Linked DNA regions of Homo sapiens. The protein of the gene in region 1 purifies or fractionates together with the protein of each later gene. This does not show direct contact. Each region holds a gene or a part of one and is shown in the gene's direction. Other genes may lie near its edges.

The links.
Region 2: the proteins of ERCC6L (region 1) and EIF4B purify together in Homo sapiens (affinity purification with mass spectrometry; one large-scale study listed by BioGRID and IntAct). This does not show direct contact.

What each region holds. Positions count from the first base shown.
Region 1 is NC_000023.11:72,211,425-72,215,242, reverse strand, and holds part of ERCC6L (DNA excision repair protein ERCC-6-like), read left to right. Parts: intron 1-3,818. UniProt on the Homo sapiens protein: DNA helicase that acts as a tension sensor that associates with catenated DNA which is stretched under tension until it is resolved during anaphase. Functions as ATP-dependent DNA translocase. Can promote Holliday junction branch migration (in vitro).
Region 2 is NC_000012.12:53,012,674-53,016,491, forward strand, and holds part of EIF4B (eukaryotic translation initiation factor 4B), read left to right. Parts: intron 1-3,799; coding exon 3,800-3,818. UniProt on the Homo sapiens protein: Required for the binding of mRNA to ribosomes. Functions in close association with EIF4-F and EIF4-A. Binds near the 5'-terminal cap of mRNA in presence of EIF-4F and ATP.

The sequences.
Region 1 (3,818 bases):
CCCAGGCATTTTCCACCTCCAGAGGCAACCACTGTCTTGATGTTTTCCACCATATGTTAGTTTTGCCTATTTTAGAACTTGATATAAGTGAAATCACACTGTTGCTACTCTTTTATGCCTGGCTTTTCCTCAGCATGTTTTTGAGATTCATACATGTATAAATTCATACATGTAGTAGTTTGTTCTTTTCTATTATTGAGTCCTTTGTATGAATATATCACAGATTGGTGGGTTTTTTTGTTTGTTTGTTTGTTTTGAGTCAGAGTCTTGCTTTTTCATCCAGGCTGGAGTGCAGTGGCTTGATCTTGGCTCACTGCAACCTCCATCTCCTGAGTTCAAGCGATTTTCCTGCCTCAGCCTCCTAAGTAGCTAGGATTACAGGAACCCGTCACCACACCTGGCTAATTTTTGTATTTTTAGTAGAGATGGTGTTCCACCATGATGGCAGGGCTAATCTCGAACTCCTGACCTCAAGTGATCTGCCCACCTCGGCCTCCCAAAGTGCTAGGATTACAGGTGTGAGCCACCGTGCCTGGCCTAAACTTTTGTTTTGTTTTTTTTTTTTTTTTTGAGATGGAGTCTCACTCTGTCATCCAGGCTGGAGTGCTGTGGCATGATCTCGGCTCACTGCAACTTCCGCCTCCCTGGTTCACATGATTCTCCTGCCTTTGCCTCCAGAGTAGATGGGATTACAGGTGCCTGCCACCATGCCTGGCTAATTTTTGTATTTTTAGTAGAGATGGGTTTCACCATGTTGGCCAGGCTGGTCTCAAACTCCTGACTTCAGGTGATCCAACCGCCTCGGCCTCCCAAAGTGCTGGGGTTGTTTCCAGTTTTTGGCTATTAAGAGTAAAGCAACATTGTTTGTTTTTTTGACTCTTAAATGCCTGTCTTATAAATGGCGCTAAGCAGGGAAAAGCTAATTATTAAATATTGTTTGACTGAAATGTGAACCACATTTTTCCCTAATTTATGTCAGAAATCACTATTTAATAATATTGTTTGTGTTTATATGTGATTTTAAAATGATCCCCACCTTAATTAAAATGACCATCCCTGAAAGTGAAGCCAAAAGGAAGGAATCCTCCTAGCCTACTCTGCCATGACTTGGGCTTTAAATGGACCTGTTTTCAATACTGGCATTCAGGTCACCTGCAATTTTTATGTTATCCAAATGTTTTATGTTTTATTGATTTTGATGGAGAATCAAAAGACATCTGTTGTGTCTAATGCATCTACATGCATCTTGACAAGGGGACTGGACATAGAGACATGTCAGGGAGCAGATACTCCAGGAGCTGGATCAGTATAGGGAAACTGTTAACGGACAGGTCTTTGTTCTCAGAGCTCCCAAGATAGTGGTGGGCCGCTCCCAAGATGGCAGCAAGCCTTTTGTTCTCTGACCTGGGGTTCTTGGCCTCACGGATTCCAAGGAATGGAACCTTGGGCCACATGGTGAGTGTTATAGCTCTATTAGAAGCCGTGGGTCATGGAAGAGAACCGTGGAACCCAGCAACTAGTGTTCAGCTGGATTAGGACGAACCCGGGCACTTAGCCATGCAGGAACAATGGCGAGCCTTTAGCCCGATTGGGAGCGGCAATGGGCGCCTTGCTATATCAGAAACGCAGCGGACACCCTGCCATATCTGGAGGGGTGGAAGTCAGCGATGGGTCTGCAACGGTGGCAAACAGCAGTGGTGGACGGTGAGCGAAAGCTCAGCTCGAGCCGTAACAAACACAGACCAGAAGAGTGTGCAGTTGCAAGATTTAATAGAGTGAAAACAGAGCTCCCATACAATGGGAGGGACCCAGACGAGGTTGCCCCTCCCGGCTCGAATGCCTGGATTTATATCCCGATCATTTTCCCTCCCCCTGTGCTCTCGGGCGATATATGATTTGACTATTTCTTTACCTCCTGCTTTTAGCCTAATTTGTATTTCAGTGAGCCCTCTTTACTACCTGATTGGTTGGGTGTGAGCTGAGTTATAAGCCCTGTATTTAAAGGTAGGTGTAGTCACCTTCCCCAGCTAGGCTTAGGAATTCTTAGTCAGCCTAGGAAATCCAGCAAGTCCTGTCTCTCAAAACTGGGTTCTTGTTGAGAGGACAGCAATAACCCCACTCACATGCGCCGAGATTAGCAGGTCTAGGCTCCTCCACCCCTATATGGGCCTAGTGGCTGGTGGCCAGATTACAAAACAAAGAGCATTTCTGATTGTTTTGCATGTGAAGAAAACAAAGTTTTATTGAGTTAGGGTCTTTGCATTCAGTTCTCTGTCTCTTCACATTCTTTTTTTTTTGAGACAGGGTCTGGCTCTGTAGCCCAGGCTGGAGTGCAGTGGTGACACGATCATAGCTCAATGCAACCCCTGCCTCCCAGGCTCAAGCCATCCCTCCCACCTTAGCCTCCCAGTAGCTGGGTCTAGGCGCATGCCACCAAACCCGGCTAATTTTTTTTCTATTTTTTGTAGAGACCAGGGCTTCACTATGTTGCCCAGGCTAGTCTCAAACTCCTGGGCTCAAGCAATCTGCCCGCCTTGGCCTCCCAAAGTACTGGGATTAGAGGCTCAAGCCACCGCTCCCAGCTGTCTCTTCACATTCTAAAATAACTTTGTAGGGAATGTTCTAAAGGGCCCTCCATAGCAAGGAAAATCAAGTGTGTGTCTTCTGCAACTTAAGCTTGTGTGCCTTTTCAGCTGCTCATTTGTAAACACTGTGTGTTTAACTTAGCTTAGCTCTTTGGGGCATAGGTCTAATAGTATGGCTTATGGGTTTCTCCAGATAGAAAAACTTTTCAGCATCTGAACTGGCAGACCCTCTGTGGAGAAGAAAGGTTTCTCAAGGTATCAGCCAGTTCCAAAGGGAGGTGGATTAGATGTTGAGAGGTTAATTGGCTATGGTCAAGGAAAATGTTTGCATCTGAGGAAATAGCTTTGGGGCAGAGATGATTTTATTATTATTATTATTATTTTTTTTGAGATGGGGTCTCGCTGTGGTGCACGGTTGGAGTGTAGTGGTGCGATCTTGGCTCACTGCAACCCCCGCCTTTCACGTGATTCTCATGCCTCAGCCTCCCGAGTAGCTGGGATTACAGGCACCCACCACCATGCCCGGCTAATTTTTTTGTATTTTTAGTAGAGACGGGGTTTCACCATGTTGGCCAGGCTGGTCCTGAACTCCTGACTTCAGGTGATTCAACCGCCTCAGCCTCCCAAAGTGCTGGGATTACAGGCATGAGCCACCATGCCCAGCCACAGAGATGATTTTATATGGCCACTTGGGCAGGGCTTCTTATAGAGAGACCTTTAGGTGGGGTTATGACCCAGGGGGTTAGCAACTGGGCAGTTTTGCCAGCGAAAGTGTAGCTTTCCAGGTAACAGGACTTTGTAGCCCAAGTTTAATTGTTGTATCACCTTCCTCCAGGAGTTGTTTGTATATAATATTTCTTTTTTTTTTTATTTTTGAAACGGGTCTTGCTCTGTCACCCAGGCTGTAGTGCAGTGGTGCGATCATGGCTCACTGCAGCCTAGACCTCCCATGCTGAAGCGAACTTCTTGCCTCAGCCTCCTGAATAGCTGGGACTGACTACAGGTGTGTGCCACTGATATGGTTTGGCTGTGACCCCACCCATAATCTCATCTTGAATTGTAATCCAGATTGTAATCCTCAATCTCATCTTGAATTGTAATCCAGACTGTAATCCTCACGTGTTTGGGGAGACACCTTGTGGGAGGTGATTAGATGTCCTTTAAAATAATCCTTAAAGAGAAACATGCTCTAGTCATATAATTTCAGGTAAAACCATTTAAACATAAAATTTT
Region 2 (3,818 bases), on another chromosome or scaffold:
CAGCTCACTGCAAGCTCCGCCTCCCGGGTTCACGCCATTCTCCTGCCTCAGCCTCCCGAGTAGCTAGGACCACAGGTGCCCGCCACCATGCCCGGCTAATTTTTTTGTATTTTTAGTAGAGACGGGGTTTCACCATGTTAGCCAGGATGGTCTCGATCTCCTGACCTCGTGATCCACCCGCCTCGGCCTCCCAAAGTGCTGGGATTACAGGCGTGAGCCACCACACCCAACAGTAATTTCTTAACCAGAGGGCCTGGGAGTGGGTGGCAATCAGAGGAGGGGGAGACTTGTGATTTGAAAAGACATTCTAAGATTTAAAAGTGCTTTTAATATTTTTTAGTCATGATATTTAATTTGTTTGGAAATTTCAAATAACGTTAAAGAAGAAACTTGTTTGTCAAAGGAGTCAAGGGGTGAGAGTTGAGAAACTGTGATCTACAAAGTTGATTTAAGCCAAATCGGACTAAAGGGCAGATTAATTCCACATTCTGCTGTTTTGGTAGAAGATACGTATATAGAACAAAGAGGAAAGGGATACCTTATTCAGATTGTTAATGTTCTTTTGTTGAACTTGACCTTATTGTACTGACCACCAGTTCTGTTTTTATCCTCCCAGTGGAAGGACAGGTTAATAATTGGATATTAGCTGATGGTACTAGATTAAGCCCCATGAGGGTAAGGATCTGTAGCTAGCATCATATTAATCCCAGACACTATTTTTGAATTAAATGATATGAAAAAGTCTAAAATAAGCCCACGCACTGTAAGTGGTTTACCTCATGTCTTACTCGTGTTCGCTTATTAAAATCTCCCATAGATCTTTGCATATGAGGCTGGGCACAGTGGCTCATGCCTGTAATCGCAGCATTTTGGGAGGCCGAGGTGGGTGGATCATTTGGGGTCAGGAGTTTGAGACCAGCCTGGCCAACATGGTGAAACCCCATCTCTACTAAAAATACAAAAATTAGCCAGGCTTGGTGGCACATGCCTGTAATCCCAGTTACTCAGGAGGCTGAGGCAGGAGAATCACTTGAACCTGGGAGGCAGAGGTTATAGTGAGCCAAGATGGCGCCACTGCACTCCAGCCTGGACAAGAGTGAGACTCCCTCTAAAAAAAAAAAAAAACCTTTGCATATGAGCTGCAGCAATAAAAGTGCTATGAGACCCAACCTCTCTGTAACCGTATTCTTTGAAAGCTGTGGAATAAGGCCAAGTGCAGTGGCTCACATCTAATCCCAGCACTTTGGAAGGCTGAGACGGGTGGACCACTTGAGGCCAGGAGTTGAAGACCAATCTGGGCAGTGTAGCAAGACCCCTGCCTCTACAAAAAATTTTAAAATTAGCTGGGCATGGTGGTGCATGCCTATAGTCCCAGCTACTCAAGAGGCTACAGTGGGAGAATTGCTTGAGCCCAAAAGGTCAAAGCTGCAGTGAGCCACGATTGCACCACTGCAAAAAAAGAAAAAAGAAAAAGCAGGCCGGGCGCGTTGGCTCACGTCTGTAATCCCAGCACTTTGGGAGGCTAATCACGAGGTCAGGAGATCAAGACCATCCTGGCTAACACTGTGAAACTAAAAAAAAAAAAAAAATTAGCCTGGCGTGGTGGCACGCGCCTGTAGTCCCAGCCACTTGGGAGGCTGAGGCAGGAGAAATTGCTTGAACCTGGGAGGCGGAGGTTGCAGTGAACTGAGATCGCGCCACTGCACTCCAGCCTGTATGACAAAGCGAGACTCCGTCTCAAAAAAAAAAAAAAAAGCGTAGGATGGATTCAAAATGTGATCTGGTTGATCATAAACAATACTTTTGGAGCTGGATTAATATTAAGTCACTTGAGAGATACAGAAAATACCATGTTCGTGGTCAACTTTGATTATTTTAGCCGGGTTCATCTGGTTTGCACATTGAGACCGTAATACTTCAGGTTCTAATTGTGTCCAGAAGGCTATGTGTTAACATTCATAGCAAACTGGTTACCTTTATTTCCTGAAAGTTAAATTTTGAAAGAAAGGGATACCAAGTGAGAAAGCAACCTTCAGTTAAACAAAGGGGTACATCAAGTTTGATATTCTTGGATTAAAAATCAGGTGACAATTGGAACATGGAGGAGAAATTCATGATTATAAAAACCATGAAGCCAATCTTTTTTACAACAAAGCTGCTTGTTTTTTTCTTAATCATGTAGTGGCTGCTATCAGGCCAGTTCTGGAACTTCACTGAGTCCCTCTGCTCTTCTGAATCAGCTCTTGATTGGTGGTGACTTCTCGGAAGTTCTGAGGACCACAAAGAAAGAGCAGTGTCAGTTCACTAAGTTGAGCCATTTGGAGATTACTAAATATTCCATAACTGTGGGAAACACTTAAATGTGTTGGTTATTAGGGTTTTCGTGTGTTTTCCTTTTAGCATTACATCCTCATATGCAGTGTTGTTATAGTAGAGGAGGACATTTTTTCTAGAGGGCAGAGAGATCTAGGGAATATGACTGTTAACATTTGAACACTTTCAAATAGCAGTACGTTTTACTGTGGTTTTGATAACCTGACATAGAATAAGCTGCTGAGATGCAAGGATACCTTGGTATATAGAAAGAGCCTTAGACTTCGTATGAAAAAAACTTAGGTTTTATCTTCAGCCTAGCCATCTAATGTCTCTGTAACTTTACAGACATCTGGTGTTTCACTTAACCTCTCTGAGACTTAGTTTCCTTTTCTGTAAATTGATAGTTGTGGCCAGGCACCATGGCTCATACCTGTAATCCCAGCATTTTGGGAGGCTGAGGCAGGAGGATCACTTGAGCCTGGGATCCTCCAGGATACTTGAGACCAGCCTGGGCAACATAGGGAATTAAAAAACTTTTTAAAAATCAGCTGGGCGTGGTAGTGTGCCTCTGTGGTCCCAGCTATTGAGGAGGCTGTGGGAGGATCACATGAGCATGGGAGGGTTGAGGCTTCAGATAGCCGTGGCCACACCACTGCACTACAGCCTGGACAACAGAGCAAGACCCTGTCTCAAAAAAAAAAAATGGGGCCGGGTGTGGCGGTTCACACCGTAATCCCAGCACTTTCGGAGGCCGAGGCAGGAGGATCACCTGAGGTTAGGAGTTCAAGACCAGCCTGGCCAACATGGTGAAACCCCGTCTCTACTAAAAACACAAAAAATTAGCTGGGCATGGTGGCGGGTGCCTGTAATCCCAAGTATTCGGGAGGCTGAGGCAGGAGAATTGCTTGAACCCAGGAGGCAGGGGTTGCAGTGAGCCGAGATGGCACCATTGCACTCCAGCCTGGACAACAAGAGCAAGACTCTGTCTCAAAAAAAAAAAAAAAAAGACAGTTGTGATTCCTTCCCTATATGGTTTGTTTACAAGTGTCAAAACAGTCTTCAAAACTGCCATACTGAATATGTTATGTGAGATACGAATTTTTATTGATCTTTTTTATCCAAAGAGCAGTGAAAGTAGTAACTGAATAGAAGTAGTTACAAAATTAAAGATCTCAAATGATAAGTGAATATAGTAGAAAATAAAAGGTTGCCCCCACACTCCAAACATACTCTCCAGGGTGTATCTCAAACACTCAGACCCTTTTCCGTACGTAAACATGTGTTTACACATAATAGGTATTCTGCAACTTTTAAATTTCTTATTTATGTCTGCATAGTACCCCTTCATGGAAATGCCATAATTTAACCATTTGAGGAGCGTCCATGTTATTTCTTTCTAAATAATGTTTTACAATATTGCATTGTACAACTCTGTAAATACCTGAGTATTGGTGAATAATCTTTCTCTTGCCTTTTAAAACAGCAAAAAAGAAGAATAAGAA